Regions from separate parts of the Homo sapiens genome. Here region 2 is linked to region 1. The links come from fine-mapping of genetic effects on gene expression. Tissue or cell type: whole blood. Region 1 holds a variant in brackets; the other region holds the start of a gene. All regions are shown on one strand. Distances are from middle to middle.

Region 1 (8,108 bases):
AACAACTCATTTACAAAACTCGGCTCACACACCTTTTCCTCTGTGAAGCATTTCTTGGATCTACTTCTGTCTATTCTCCCCACCCCAGGCAGAACTAAGCACTTCCTCCTCCATACCTACACTGTACCCTGTGTGCCCTGTACAGACTTCCATCACAACACCTATAGCACTTATCACACATTTTAAAAAACATGTCACAGAAAGCACAATAAAATGAACAATAAATGGATTTTGGATTTAGACAAGGCTCAAATCCTTGCTCTGTTTATTAGCTCACTGGCCTTGGGCAAGTTCTCTGAACTTCTCATTTTAAAATGAGGATAAGGATTATGATGATTAGTCGTAATATTTGATATTTGTGAAGTCTTAAGTCAGCACAGTACCTGGTAGACAGAAAACATACAATAAATGTTGCTGATTCAGCGAATGAATATCAGACTAGATGGCCAATGTGACATTGTAAATGTCTCAGAAGGTTTTCTATATCAGTTTCATAAAAAATTACTTCATAATCTTGTTGTTGTTGTTGTTTACTGTGTTTGTTTTTTAGAGATGGGGTCTTGCTCTGTTGCCCAGGCTGGCCTCAAAATCCTGGGTTCAAGGGATCCCCCAGACTCAGCCTCTCAAGTAGCTGGGATTACAGGTGCATGCCATCGTGCCTGGCATTTTAGTGTTTTGTTTGCTAAGAATTAGTTTATCCCAAATTGAAAACAAATCAGCACACATTGAATAACCTTTACATTTCTTATCTGACAAGGGTTGACATATTATGTAGTTTAAAATCCTTCCTTTTTCACTCACACACTTTCATTCTGATGAGTTTTTCTTTTACTTAGTATCTTTGACAATTACCTGATGAAATTAAAGTTTTTTTGTATTCTATAATATCTGACAGCTGTCAGCTTTAATAAGCCATTAAATAATCTTACAATAACCTTTAATTTTGGGTGTCACTCACCATCATTTTCTTTTGGCACTGAAAGGCACTGAAATCATTTGGCCTGTATCTTTTATGAGCACCATCTTCATTGTTAACAAGAAATTCACCAATGGGGACAGTTCCTGTGCACCATTCAAGAACACCACTTCGCTGAGAGAGGGGAACCACCTGGAGTTACAGATTAAATACCTTTTAATTTTAAAAGGCCATTAAAGAGCATTTGATGATCATTCAGCTATCAGAGTCAGTGCAAAGCATTTTTTTTCAAGTTGTATTAATATTTCTCTGTCCATAGAAGACAAAGCTCCTTGGAGGAAACCAATCGGAAATAAACTTAAGCTCAAAGAATATAATTTTCCAGCCTGCTGCCTAGATGTTTGAGAGCCTGCCCATCACTCAATCCCCACGATTCTCTGAGAGGTCACTCCTGTTAACTATACTCACCGTCATCTGTCATTAATCCATACTTAGTTTGTCCAGTTAGGAGAGGAATTAACTGCTTTCCTTAAAATTTTAGTATCAATTAAATTTGGGGAGTTTCACTTGGAAATTATTACCCATGAATGTGGTCTCAATTTTAGTGTAACTTCATTATTGAAATTACATGTACTCTTGCTTTAGTCTTATTATCTTCACAGAGAGAAAATGTACTCCTAAATATAAAATAAGCAACTTTACTAGGAAAGTTTTTTAAAATTATATTATAAACATACATAAAGTATAGAAAATGATATTAACAGATACCCTTTTATCCATTAAACAGCTTTATCAAATCTAGGATTTTCTCACATTTGCTGGGGAAGAGATGAAGCTCCCCCTTGTGTGCTTCACTGACCCTAAGTCCCTCCCACCATCAAGATGACTGTTAGCTGGTTTATCATGTTCTTGTATTTTTTGGTATATTTTTATTTCAAAGCTATATGTACACAAATAGTTGTAAGTATTAAGTAAAAAAATTAGGATACTATATGTATATTTCTGTAATTTGGTTTTTTATTCAATACTATTTTATCCTAACTATGTGAGCATATTTAACTCTACATCATTCATTTTAACAGCTATATACTACATAAATACAACAGTTATCCAATCTGCATATTAACATTTACATTGTTTCCACATTTCCATGAAATACTGCTGCAATGAAATAAACTACTCGTGAACATATTTCAGTTTCTCTAGGCAGGGGTGTCCAATCTTTTGGATTCCCTGGGCCACACTGGAAGAATTGCCTTGGGCCACACATAAAATACACTAACACTAATGATTGCTGATGAGCTAAAAAAGAAAAAAAAACTGCAAAAAAAATCTCATAATGTTAAGAAAGTTTACAAATTTGTGTTGGGCTGCACTCAAAGCCATCCTGTAGGCTGCATGTGGCCTGCAGGCTGTGGGTTGGACAAGTCTGCTCTAGGGTATATACCCAGGAATTTAACAGCTGAGCCAGAGATACATCTTCACCTCGGTTAACCAGATATTGCCAAATAACTATTCAAAGTGACTGTACCGATTTATATACCCACCAGTAGAGTTATTCCATAACTTTCGCAATACTTAATATTGTCAGGCTTTTTATATTTTGCTAATCTGAGGGTAATAGTATTTCACTGTGGTTTTAATTTGTATTTTCCAGATTACTAGAAAAGTTGAATATCATTGTATTCTTCATATAAATCCCTTGTTCTTTATATTAAAATGATCCTTTTTGTTCTAATTAACATTATTATATTCGTTTTCTCAGCTGGTCACTCGTCCTTATGGTGTCTTTAGTTCTATACATTTTTAAATTTTAAGTTTCTCACATATGTTGAACTGTTTTGTGTCTTAAGGAAGCATTTGATTAATTTATTAACATTTATTTGTTGGGGGCGTATTACATGTTACACACAGGGCTAGGGCACTGAGAACAGAGTGGGAAAAAGGCAGATGAAGACTATGCCCTCATAAAGTTTCATTCTGGTGAGGAACATATATCCTAATAAACATTTCATAATATTAGATAATAAGTATAAGAGAACAAAACTTAAGTTTAAAAAAGAGAGAAAGTGGGTAATGGCAACATGGTCGGAGGCCTTTCTGAGGGTAACACTGCAGCAGAAGCCTGAATGAAGTAAGGGAGTGACTGGTGTGAAGATCTGAGGGAAAAGCATTGCAGGCAGAAGCAGAAAAGCCCTGAGGCAGAAACAAATTGGTGTGTCTAAGCAATTGCAAAAGACCAGGTAAGTCAGGTGGAGATGACTCATCTATACAAGCAGAAAGTGAGAGGAGTGTGAGGAGAGTGGTAGATAAGGCTGGAGGGAGAACAGCAGAGGCAGATCACTTAACTTAGAGAATTGTCATTCAGGGATAATGTGAACTCATGTGGGGTTCTGAACAGGAAAATGGAATACAGCTGGCCCTCTGCAGCTGCAGATTCAACCAACTGTGGATCAAAAATATTCACCAAAAAAACCTCAATAAAAACAATACAATAAAAAATAAAAATTTTAAAAACCAATACAGTACAACTATTTACACAGCATTTACACTATATAAGGTATTTTAAGTAACCCAGAGATGATTTACAGTACATGGGAGGAGGTTCATAGGTTATAGGCAAATGCTTCATACACCACTGTATATAAGGGACTTGATTTTAGTATCCACAGGGGGCTCTGGAAACAATCCCCCACAGATACCGAATAAGAGTACTCTGTCTTAGACAATTTTAAAAGGATCACTCTAACAGTTATTAATAAAACTAGCTTTGGAAAACCAAGAGCAGAAGTAAACTGTTGGTTTAAACTCTAGTATCTACAGAGATGTGACTGCAGAAGTAGGGTGGTAATAGCAGGGGTGGTAAAGTGACCTGCCTGGAAGTTGACCAATAGGACTTGCTGATGGAATAGACAAGACTTGAGAAGAGAGAAACAAGAGTTTAAAATGACTCCCATTACTTGGTGACATTTAGGAATTTTTGTGAATTGTTTTAGGAGTGATGACAGTATTGTGAGAATGGTTTTTTAAAACAGACATTATCTTACAGATCTACACACTGAAATGTTTACAGATGAAATGATATGACATCTTGCTTTAAAATAATATTGGAAGGAAGTTGGTGGAAAGAGAAATGGAACAAAATTGTCCATGAGTTGGTAACTGCTGAAACTGAGTGACAAGTACAAGGGGGTTCATGATGTTATTGTCTCCTTTTGTATGTTTGAAATTTTCCATAATAATAAAAGTAAAAAGAAAATAAAGCCTCTAGGTTTCAGTCTGAGCAACCAAGTGAAGGTGGTACCATCTCTAACAATACACTTTGCATTATAATTATGTTTATTATGTTTATTTTCCCTATTAGAATGTGAACACCTTAAGGACTAGGGCAATGTTTTACTACTTCTATAGACCTAGCACTCAGTAGAGTATCTAACCCAACGTAGGTATATAAATTCACATTTATTGAATAAACAAATGAATGATCTCATGGCCTTTCTGATTTCCCTTCCTGCCTAATAAGTATTCTACATGCCCTCTCCCCTGCTGTCTTTGAGTTAGCTGTGACCCCTGATGCTTGATCACATTAACATTCTTGCAGTGTAGTGTACTCTGTCTAAAGTCTCTTTTACATTGATTACTCTCTATCAATATCTAGCTCTGGGGCGGGGAGGGGGAATCAAACCCTTATTTTTTGTTGAGAGATTGATACAGAAAGGAATGGGTTGGCTTTTTTCTACCTCAGCTTAGAGTCTCAACTGTGATGTTGGTTGTTGGAGAAAGAGCTGAATTTGAATTTCAAAAAGCAAATGACAGTGTTTTCTCTGGTACTAAAGACTCTCTGGAAGATTTCAACTGGGTATCTGGGTATTTTGTGTGAAT[A/G]CCACAAAAAAGGACTGATGACTATTTTCTCAGTTCTCTGAAAGTACACAGCTGATATCATCCTAGATACACAGAAATGAAGTTAATTCATTATATTCAGTGAATGTCTTAAGATATTATGGCTTCTCTCCCCAGAACCATGACTGAGATAGATGCTCTGAAATATGCATGACAAGGAATAAAAATTATTTATTGGCACAAGGCAGGATGATCAGGTTAAGTGCAAAGCTCCTTTCAGCACTTAAATATTGTTTATTAGAGACTTGCCTTTTAGAAAACAAATCCTCTGACACCTAAGATTTTAGACTTGTTCAGTATACTTTGTAACAATGCATAGTTTTGGTGGAGAAAAATGGGGCCAGCCACCCTAATTCTGGTTAATGTTAAGGGCTATGTCTGAGCTATCAACATACACAATAAGAACTGTCTTCATTTCCATCTGATTCTCTCTGACAAGAGATATCTGGCATGCCTCAATATACAAGTCTCTCCTTTTGAGGTTGCACAATGACACAAGGTTTGTATACCAAGATCTAGTTCCAGGTAGTCAATGTATGCTCTTGTTGACACAATGACCACAGAAGACCTGAATCTCAGGATTGGGAATGACTCTACAGATGACTGGACTGGGTAGACTACTTCGCTGTAGTCTAGGGAACCTTAACTAAAGGCAAGAACACTTAGTTTAACATAATGATGACACAACTTTCACATTCTTGGAGTAATCTCAAAATAACATTACTGGCTTATTGTCGTAATTCTAAGAAATAGTCAAACCTAAACTGTTGTGTTTACAGGTTTTACTTTAATATTGAGATGTATAACATTAAATAATTAATTATCTGGGTTACCCCCCAACCCCACTTTTTTTTTTTTAAGACAAGTTCTTGCTCTGTTGTCCAGACTGGACTGCAGTGGCATGATCACAGCTCATGCACAGCCCCAAACTCCTGATTTCAAGCAATCCTCACGCTTTAGCTTCTTGAGTAGCTGGGACTATAGGTGCATGCCATCATGCCTGGCTAAATTTTTAATTTTTTGTAGAGATGAGGTCTTGCTGTGTTGCCCAGGTTGGTTTCAAACTCCTGGCCTCAAGTGATCCTCCTGCCTTGGCCTCTCAAAGTGCTGAGATTACAGGCATGAGCCACTGCATCTGGCCTCTAGACATTTTTCCTTTTTTGAGAAGAAGTCTCGGTCTGTCACCCAGGCTGGAGTGCAGTGGTGTGATCTCGGCTCAACTGCAACCTCTGCCATCCGGGTTTAAGTGATTCTCTCACCTCAGCCTCCCAAGTAGCTGAGACTAGAGGCATGTGCCACCACGCCTGGCTAATTTTTTTGTATTTTTAGTAGAGATGGGGTTTGGCCATGTTGGCCAGGCTGGTCTCAAACTCCTGGCCTCAAGTGATCCGCCCACCTCGGCCTCCTGAAGTACTGGGATTACAGGCGTGGGCCACCATGCCCGGCTAGAAATCTTAATGGAATAACTTATATGGTAAAATAGTTTTGTGTGAAAACTAGCTGTTGAAAAAGTCATAAGGTAGAGATGAAAGTTCAGTAATTTCTGCTTTCAAGATATTCTAGGTCAGGCATTTGCTTTTTTGTGCTTTACAGCAATGAACTTTGGAGGTTCAATTGTGTATCTGCTTGGAAATCTTAGCTACTTTCTGAGAGTTCAGGAGGTGCTCCTATAGCCCATACTTTTGTAACCCAATTCTTCACCTATTATCTTTGTCATCTAAAAGTTTGGTATTTAGAGCATAAACAATTTCCTTTCATTCACATTACAGAATATCTAGTCTCTAAAAACTTCTTAGCAATCTCTACATTATCTGTCAGATAGGAGATAGCTAATAGATCATCAACTTTGTTCTAAAATGAAGTCAGGTCAATAGATGGTAGAACAAGTAGACTGGTGGGTCTCAAAGTGTTGTCCCTGGACCAGTGCAGCATCAACATAACTGGTATCTTGCTAGAAACGCACATTCACAGGTTCTACCCTAATCTTGCTGAATTAGAAATTCTAAGAATGGGGATCAGAAATCTGTGTTTTTAACAAACTCTCTAAGTGACTATGATGTCTGCTAAAGCTTGAGTACCAATGATCTTAACCACATCAAAGAAATCCCTCTACAGAGTAGCCTTTATAGAGCAACTTTTGCTTTTTGCATTCATCGAGGATTAATTAGCTTTTTAAACTGCTAATGGAAAACATCTATTATGTTAGTTATTATTGCAGAAGGTTCCATGTCACAAATTTCTCACAAACTTGAAGGCTACGGAAAAAATTGTGCTTTCCTTAATGAACAGTATGCCCCTCTCCCAACCAATAAGTTTTATATTTAGTCTCTGAAAGCAGTTAAGAAGCTCAAAACCAAGTTCTGCTTTTTATTACAATAGCCTAACTCAAGCAGCATTTTGGAGGGTAGATCTAATTTATTCTTCTTCACTCCCCTATTTAGGGCTTTTAATTTAGCCATTATTTTAAAAATAAAACACGTTCATAGTGGAAAACTAGAAATATATAAAAAAGCACATGTCACCCATAGTCCCTGTTACAACATTTATAGAAGGAGAAAGTTTAAAAATGAGGTACAGGAATGAAATCACAAAAGACAAACCTATGGAAAATAGGCCCTTCAAAATAAGGATTTATTGTTATTTCTAAACTGGTTAAATGAATAATTAATATAAGAGTCAAAGATGATCAGCTCATAGAATGTGACTGAGGATTGTCTTCTCAGGCAAATAGCTAGAGGAAATGTAAGTGGGTACACTCCCATTGAGAGTAATTTGGCAATATGTACCAGATTACAGATGCATGTATCCTCTAACCCAGCAATCCAACTTTTGGAAATCCATGCTACAAATTTGCCTGCGCATGTATGAAATTTGTATGTTCAAGGTTATTCACTACAATACAGCGTTGTTTGTAGCAGCAAAAGACTGAAAACAACACAAATGCCCATCGATAAGGACTTGTATAAAAAACTACATACATACACACAATGCAGCTGTTAAAAAATGAGAAAGATTTCTGTGACATATTGTTGAGTAGAAAAAAAAGGAAAAAATACTTCAGTTGACTATAAGAAACACCTAACTATAATTAACATTAATAAATACTTTTTACAAAGAAAATAAATCTTTATTATTTGGTCCTTCACAGAAAACATTTGTAGACTCCTGGTCCAAATAATGGCATCTTCTTCTTCTTCTTCTTTTTTAAACGGGATCTTGCTGTGTTGCTCAGGCTGGACTGGGGCTCACTGCAGAGTTTGAGCTCACTGCAGCCTCAAACTCCTGGACTCAA
Region 2 (8,108 bases), 120 kb after region 1:
AACAGAGGAAGGCTCTGCGGGGCGGGAGATGGGGGAAGTATATTTACTTTTTATTACTCTGAGACCAAAGAAACATGACATTTAAATTGAGACATGAAAGATGAATAGAAAACAGCCAGGTAAATAAGGAAATGAGCACTCAAGGATTTAACATTGACAATGAACTATTTAAAAGCACTCTTGGCCAGGCGTGGTAGTGTGCTCTTGTAGTCCCAGCTACTCAGGAGGCTGAGGTAGGAGAATCGCTTGAACCCAGGAGGCAGAGGTTGCAGTGAGCGGAGATCGCGCCACTGCACTCCAGCCTGGTGACAGAGCAAGACTCCGTCTCAAAGAAAAAAAAAAAAGCACTCTTGCTTATATGGAGAGACATGTCATTTTGCTGAGCCAAAGGCTTAAAACATGCTTTGGAGCTGATAAGTAGGAGGTTATCAGAGCTAGTAAGCTTTGTCTACCACTTCCATCTCAACTGGTATTAAGGTTCTTATTTAACACATAACAATAGGAGTAAAATGACATTTCTGTTTTAAAAGGAAATGAAGCAAATTCTATGCTATGGTGGTATCCTTTGCAAATATCAAGGATCAACTATATTTTACTATGCCTTGATTCCACTGAGTAGCTCTCTTCTTTTGGGGGCTTCTGATATAATCAAACTCTCTTTTGATGTCCTTCAAAAAAATGTAGTAAGAACAGCATTTCAACATGGACACAAAGATGGGAAGAACAGAGACTGGGGACTGTTTGAGGGTTGGAAAGAAAGGGAGGTATGGCTTGAAGGGCTACCTATCAGGTACTATGCTCACTACCTGAGTGACAGGATCATTCGTACACCAAGCCTCAGCAACATGCAATTTACCCATGTAACAAACCCGCACATCTACCCACAGAACCTAAAGTAAAATAGAAAAGAAAAAAAAAGAAACAGCATTCTGTTTTACTAGTTCTGATCTAAACCTTTATATAATACAAAGAAGTTTTTTATTAAACTATGAATGTCTGTAAACAGAGAAAAAATACATATATTTATGTATATTATACCTACAAATAACTATATCTCAAGAAGTAAAAAGGTAGGGAAAGTCCTTCTCCTATCCATCCATCTAAATTCTACTTAATCTTTCAAGATTAAGTATGTTTCTCTGCCCCGATTCAATCTCACAGAATCTCAAAATTGGGAGGAACTAAAAGACCAGGTCCAATCTTCCTATGAAGGAAGGAATGTCTCTTACAAAATGAATGCCCTGTCTTTGAATATTCTCAGTAAGAGCTGACTACCGGGGCTAGGCGTGGTGGCTCATGCCTGTAATCCCAGCACTCTGGGAGGCCGAGGTGGGCGTTCCACGAGGTCAGGAGTTCGAGACCAGCCAGCCTGGCCAACATCGTGAAACCCCGTCTCTACTAAAAATACAAAAATTAACCAGGTGTGGTAGCATGTGCCTGCAATCCTAGCTACTGGGGAGACTGAGGTAGGAGACTCACTTGAACCCAGGAGGCGGAAAGTGCAGTTAGCTGAGATCACGCAATTGCACTCCAGCATGGGCGACAGAGCGAGACTGTCTCAAAACAAAACAAGACAAAAAAAACAAAAAGAGCTGACTACCCATTTTATTAGCAGATGGCTCTGATTCTCTTCTCCTTTTATATTCACTGGTGGTTCTTCTGACTTCCCCCATCCCCCAACACTATTACAACTTCCGCTTTACTCTGCTATAGATTACAGATTGTTATTTGAGTTCTTTTCATTTGATTATATACTTCCTGTGGACAAGTATTATCATTTTTGTTTTTCCATTCCTTATGGTTTTATCTAGGAATCTTCTTACTTCTTCAATCTCAGTTTAAAGCCCTCTTGAGTCAATAAGGAAAATGAAACTGGTAATCTAACCAATGAAAATACCTTAGCAATATCCAAAGAACCATAAGGTTTGGCACCTTTATTCCTAAATATACTAAAGATTTGACACTTCCCGGAAGAGGCAGCCCTAAACTTGACTTTTTTTTCCCCATGGTGTGACTTCCTTGAACTTGTTTTTCTTACCTTCAGCTTAATGATTACTTTGAAGAAAACAAAACAGTTCAGTATTATCTACATAAACAGAAGATGCTCATTCACTGATAGATGCAAACAATATTTACTACTTATAGCTAGACAAATAATGAACTAAACAGATACAAATCCTACCCTCATGAAGTCATATCTGGGCAGCAGGGTGACAATAAACAAGTAAATTGATAAACCAATGCATAATTCCAAATTGTGATGTATGCCTCTGAGGAAACAAAAACACAGTAATAGAAAATAACTGTAGAGAGAATCATTTTAGATAAACTGTCAGGGAACATATATCTCAGAGGAGTTTATAATAAAGCCAAGATCTGAACTAACTGGTGCCAATCAAAAAAAGGGCTAGAGGACCAACACTTCAGGGAAGGAGACTAGCATAGCCAAAGGGTTCTACAATGTTAAAGAACACAGTATGTTGGCGGAACTGAAAGAAGGCAGAGGAACTATTAGGTAGTCAACTAGAGTATGAGTGTCACCATATAAAGATGAACTTCATTTATACATTAATCCAGAATATCTAGGTTCCACTCAAGGTTCAAACGAAAAGATAAGGATTTCCTACTTCCTACGAGCCTCTGAATTGACGAATTCAGTGTTCCTTTTTAGATCTCAACCAAGTTGACCCCTTTGCACAACTTGACAATGACGCTTATATCCCATCTTCCTAGAAATAACTCTGCCCTTGGCATGCCATTCTTTTCTAGTGCTAAGGAGTGTGGCCTCTGTAGTCAGATTGTATTAGTTCAAATCCTGGTTCAGCCACTTACAAACTGTATAATCTAGAGCAAGTTCACTAATCTCTTCAAACCTCAGTTTCTCAATGATAAAAGGAAAAACAATACTAGTACCTACCTCTATGAGTCCCTTTAAGGACCCATATACATGCTTACAGTGCCTGAAACACAGCAAATGTTAGCAATGATCATATTAACTTCCGTTATGACTGTTTCGAAAGTCTCCTGATATCTCTTCTTCCGCTCATACCTCAAAAACAGCTTTGTTTTCTTGGTCTCATCCATTCCTATGACTTCAGCAGCTGAAAACCCACAAAATATATTTCATTCAATGCCAGGCCTCACGCTGGAGCTTCAGGGTCCTTCTACACTTTGTGCCTTTACACGCATTTTTCCTTCCATCTGGAAGGCTTCTACCATCTGCCAAGGTAACACTGCGAGGTCTCACCACAAACTGAATTGATAGTCTCAGGCTGAGTTTGCAGAGAACCAAAGTCACTCCTCTACCATCAGAGTACTCCCCTATCACCACATACATTATCATCCACTGTAGTTGTCTTATCTGTACCTGGTAAATACAGCAGCTAACGCTCACGAGTGCTCACCACAGGTCAAGATTATCTCACTTATCTTCACAAGACAGTAGAGAGCGGCCACACGACTGACAGAATTCCAATTCCAGCCGTATGATTCCAGAGCCCAAGCTCTTAACCGCGAGGCTGAAGTTGAAATATCAATAAATGCTCGCTGACTAAAAGTACTAAATACGAGAGAGAGATCAAAAGATGACTAGTCAAGTCGCGTAGTTAAATCTGAACCCTAAGGTGACACAAAAAGAGGATGCGCAGGAGGCAGGGTTCAATTCAGGGCGTTTAAAAGGAGGAGGTTATTGGCCAAGTCCGCTAAGCACCCGGAGAGAGGCCAGGAAAGATGGAGTGAGGAGAGGGAGGAGTCAAGGGCCACTCTGGAGGGGTGCATGAGATTGGCGGTCTGGGGAGAGGACAGACTGGGTCGCACACGACTGAATTTCCCAGCGCAGAAGCCGCTGCGTTGCCTCCGCGCCCCTACCACTGCACTCGGAAGGTCAAAGTAGTATCAACCGCGGCGGTGGCTGCAGCGCAGATCCCGACTCCTCTCGCCTCCTCCCGCGGCCACGGCTTCTTTTCTCCGTTAGCCACGCAGCTACCTACTCCCGCTTCCGGTTCAAACCCTGCGTGACTGCCCAGCGCCCACTTCTGGAGGAAGAAGCAACGCCAAGCAGCCGCAGAGCACGGTATGCCCATGCGCATCCAGTATCACGCGGTCTCCGCGCTCAAAACACTGCCCCAAAACATTCGGCCCGTCGGAGCAAACGCGCCTGCGCCATGTCCACCAATGGCCAGCGACTTAGCGTTTGCGGCTCGCCCTTCGGCTCGGGCTCCGGGGCTCTCACCCACCCTCTTCGCCCTCGTCGTCCTCCCCGCCCTCCTCATCCCCGCCCCTCCAAGTCTGAGGACGGAAGTGACGACAGTTCCGAAGGCGAACGGAGGCGGGTTTCATTTCGGCGCCTTTCTTTCTCTGGCGGAAGCGATTGGCTGCCGTGAAGCGAAAGAGGCGGGACAAATTGCCGCGAGTTCAGTGCCGCCACTGGAACCAGGAGATGCGGCGCAGGAGCTGTCGCTGTGTTTGCTTTAACCTGAGTCTTGTTCCTTATTGTGGTTCCTGCTGTGGTTTTGATCATGTTGTTACCCTCGGACGTAGCCCGGCTTGTATTGGGTAAGCGCGGACGCGGGATGGAGGGTTATTGGACCCGGCTATGCTGGACAGAAGGACCTTTGAGGCCAAAGGTTTTCCCTTGGTAGGGAAGCTTTGGGGTTTTGCCTCCCAGCTTACGAGTTGAGACTGGCGGTGATTCTTCGTCATTCGGAGGTTCTGGGCAGTTTAAGCCTCTTTGTATGTAGATGCTCCTCTCTTCAGAGGCTGCGTGGCGAGGGGAAGCCCGAGGGGAAGCTCGGGGTGGAACACCTGGGGCGGATTCGGAAGGAAAGTCAGGCCTCCACACTTAATTAGGACCCCTGAAAGAGCATTTGTCTGCATGACGGACGGATTGCGTGTGCTTCAACCTTGGGCGCAATTTCCTTGGTTCAGTGTTGGGACCAAAATAGGGCAAATAGGGAGTTCCCCGGCCCCCCATCTTTGTAGAGAGACCTTCCTGGCGCCCTTCTAATAACCCGCCCTTATAACTACGAATTTGGGAGTAGGGGTGATCTTCCTTCTCCATCCTCCACGCAATACGTCGTCCAGTGTAGAGGTGTGAAATGCCAGTTGCATATTTTAAAACAGCAATTCCTGTTCCTTTGATCAGCGAAAAATTTCAGAGGGTTAATTGCCTTAAATTAGTTGAACGTTTTCTAGCCCTAGTTTTACCTTCATTTGAGGAGGGATTGTTTGTGGGTCACTTGTCTGTCAGGGTGTATTGTCTGTGTGAGAGACGGGTTTTGTTGTTGTTTGTCCCCTGAAAGAATAAAGAGGATTGTACTACAGGGGACGAGAGCCAGGTAAAGCTCAAAACCCGAGCCAGTAATTTACGGACGTCGTATGCGACGTCCCTAAAAGTAAATGGCAAGCATCTGTGATGAAACCTCCCATAGTATTCACAGCCATTACTACTATTATTTTATTGTTCGGAAAACCCATTTGTCTTGTGCCTCTTTTAAATGCCCAGCGCTGTCCACAAAAATGTTATTTGCGCAGGGCTCTTGATAAGCACATTTTGCAGGAAACGTTAAACGGAAATGGTTCCACCATCCATTTTTGAAGAAACTTAATGACAAGTTTAATGTTTTGTTAATGTCTGATTAATCTTTTGCTTAAGAATTCTGAGTTTTGGCAGTTTGGTAATCTAGTTGAGTTTCGGTAACTATAGTCTTAAACATGGTTTCTCAGCCTCAGTACTGTTAACATTTTGGGCCTCATAATTCTTTATTGTGGGGAGCTATCCTGTGCTCAAACATTGTAGGATGTTTAGCAGCATTCCTGGCTTCTATTCACTAGATTACAGTAGGACACCCGTTCCCCACCCTACCCTTACCCAGTTGTGATCAGTGAAAATGTCTCTAGATATTGCTAGTATGTCCCCTGGAGGGCAGAATCACCCCTAGTTAAGAAAGCCCTAAGAAAGCAGTATCATTTTCTAATTGAAATAATTCACATCGATGTGTGAGTATTCTTTCTCCACAAACCAGCTACTCTGCTGACTTCCTGCTTTTCATTTAATGGACAAAAAACGCCAGCCATGGTTTTCTTATCTTAAAAATCTTTGTCATTCACATTCCATTTTCACTGCCACCAATCCCGCAATGTGCCTGCCATTACTTCTCTTTTGGACTTCTGTCATGGCTTCCCAGACAGTTGTCCTCGCAATTCATTTTATTTACTGTTGTTACAAATCTCCCTGAAGCTTTCACACTATACCTTTTAGTCTGAAAGTTGAGATAATTCTATTCTTACTAAAAATTTCAGATGGGCAGGAGTATACAATACAAAAAAGCCTCCCCATGCCTAATGCTCTTACTTTTGTCGTTTATCATTTTACATCTTAAATAGATACATATCGTGTATATCTTTCTCATATGAGGTTTATTATTTACTCATGATTCTTTTCCTATCAGTACCCCCTCGCCATCTTCAGCTCCTCTTGTTATTGGTCCCTTCATAATGTTTTTTTTCTAGCAAATCTTTGGGTGCCTAGTATGTTCCAAACACTGTGCCAATTGCTGAACATAGAGAAGTTAAGTTTTCTCCCCTTAGTGTTCAGATAATTAGGTTTTTTTTAAATTCTTAAACATACACACAAAAAAACACTTTTCTGGACCCCACTAGACATTAGACACCCATTAAACAGAACATTCTGTCTTATGTTCTGTGTCACCCTTTCACAAGTCAAATTTATTCAAAGAACAATGAATTCCACTTAGTTGCTGTTCTTCACCTACCTTTTATCCTTCAGGATACTGCACTCTGACTTTTGCATCTCACTACTCCACTTAAGTAGCCCTTATTGCCTTGCTGGGATTTTACAAAATGTTGTGTGGGCCAGAATACATCAAAGTGTTTGTTGCCTCTGGGCCATCAGTTCAGTTTTTATCTATTTATTCAAGGTGCTCTGTGGAACTGATCCTACCTACCTCTCCAACTTGATCTCAACTTCCTAACATCTGTTTTATGCTGCAGACATGCCAAACGAATTGAAGTTTCTTTGAAAATTCTTGTATGTATTCTACTTCTCTTTGTCTTCCTAGTACACTTCTATTCAAGGTTCAGGTCATGCCTGATCTCTGAAACTTCATTCAGCAAGTACAGTCAGTACTTCTTAAATGTTGCCATAGCATTGTACTTCTGTTACAACCTTATCATGTCTCATTGTAGATGTGTGTTTACTTTTTTTTGATAAAATATACTAACAAAATTCAACACTTAAAAATGTATAGTTCTTAAAGCCCAAAACAATGAGTTTGTTGTTGTTGTTGTTGTTGTTGTTGTTTGTTTTTAATGTACAGATCAGTAGTGTTAACTATATTGACATTTTTCTGCAACCATCACTACCATCAGTTTCTGGAACTTTTTCATCTTCCCAATTTGAAACTTACTTGGTTTTTTGTTTTATTAGTAGTCTTAGTCATGGATGAATGGACAAGCTTCAAGAGTTCTGGGAGTCCCCAAAACTATCATCTGTGAAGGTTTTCTTGAATAGATTTGTTACCTTCTGTATGAGACAGCATGCAGTAAAAAAAGTAGAAACCATTCTGAGTATTTAACATGGAAAGATTTAATGAGAGAATTCGTTTACACTGGTGAGAGAAAAGCTAAGACGCCCAGCAGCTTACAACTAAGGCATCTCAGTGGTTAGCAACAGTAGGAAGCCACTATGCTAATGAGAAGGATAAGGAGAGAGGAAGCAATCAAGAGGCTGGTTTGACTGCGGAACGTGGAAGACTTGTCTGATGAGGGAGTGGTAGTCTTAGAGGAGACTCTACTGAGGCAGAAAGGGAATGGGGGAAAAATATGGCTGCTTCCTCCTGCCCTCCAGCCTCCCACCAGTGCTTCCTATTTACTGAGCCCAGCCAGTAGCAGGCCGACAGAAGAGCTTGGGGAACATTGCCTATATAGAGTCAAGCTTTATGTCATACAGTAGAGAGCGACAGAAGGGTCAAGAACGTGTTTGAGGTCAAACAGGACCAAAACTGACACACCCCTAACAGGTCAAGAGCTGCTGGTTCTATTCACCTTTATATCACCAAAACATAGATATTTAATAAAACATTTGCAAA

The links. PIP is the estimated chance that this variant, and not a neighbour inherited with it, causes the effect.
Region 2: NPAT starts here. The variant in region 1 is fine-mapped to the expression of NPAT in whole blood (TOPMed, PIP 0.94).

The regions. Positions count from the first base shown.
Region 1 is chr11:108,336,222-108,344,329 of GRCh38, reverse strand. ATM (ATM serine/threonine kinase) reads right to left here. Exons shown (of 63, transcript NM_000051.4): 57 at 959-1,108. It also overlaps a transcript of C11orf65 not described here. Among named protein-coding and RNA genes, the nearest start is that of ATM, 120 kb to the right of the region's middle. RefSeq lists a silencer at 5,201-5,401. The variant A/G (reference allele first, on the strand shown) is at 4,799.
Region 2 is chr11:108,218,946-108,227,053 of GRCh38, reverse strand. NPAT (nuclear protein, coactivator of histone transcription) reads left to right here and starts at 4,416. Exons shown (of 18, transcript NM_002519.3): 1 at 4,416-4,554. The coding sequence starts at 4,518. ATM (ATM serine/threonine kinase) reads right to left here and starts at 3,987. Exons shown (of 63, transcript NM_000051.4): 1 at 3,868-3,987. RefSeq lists enhancers at 1,485-1,604, 3,101-3,150, 3,501-3,580, 3,891-4,050, 4,461-4,520 and 1 more.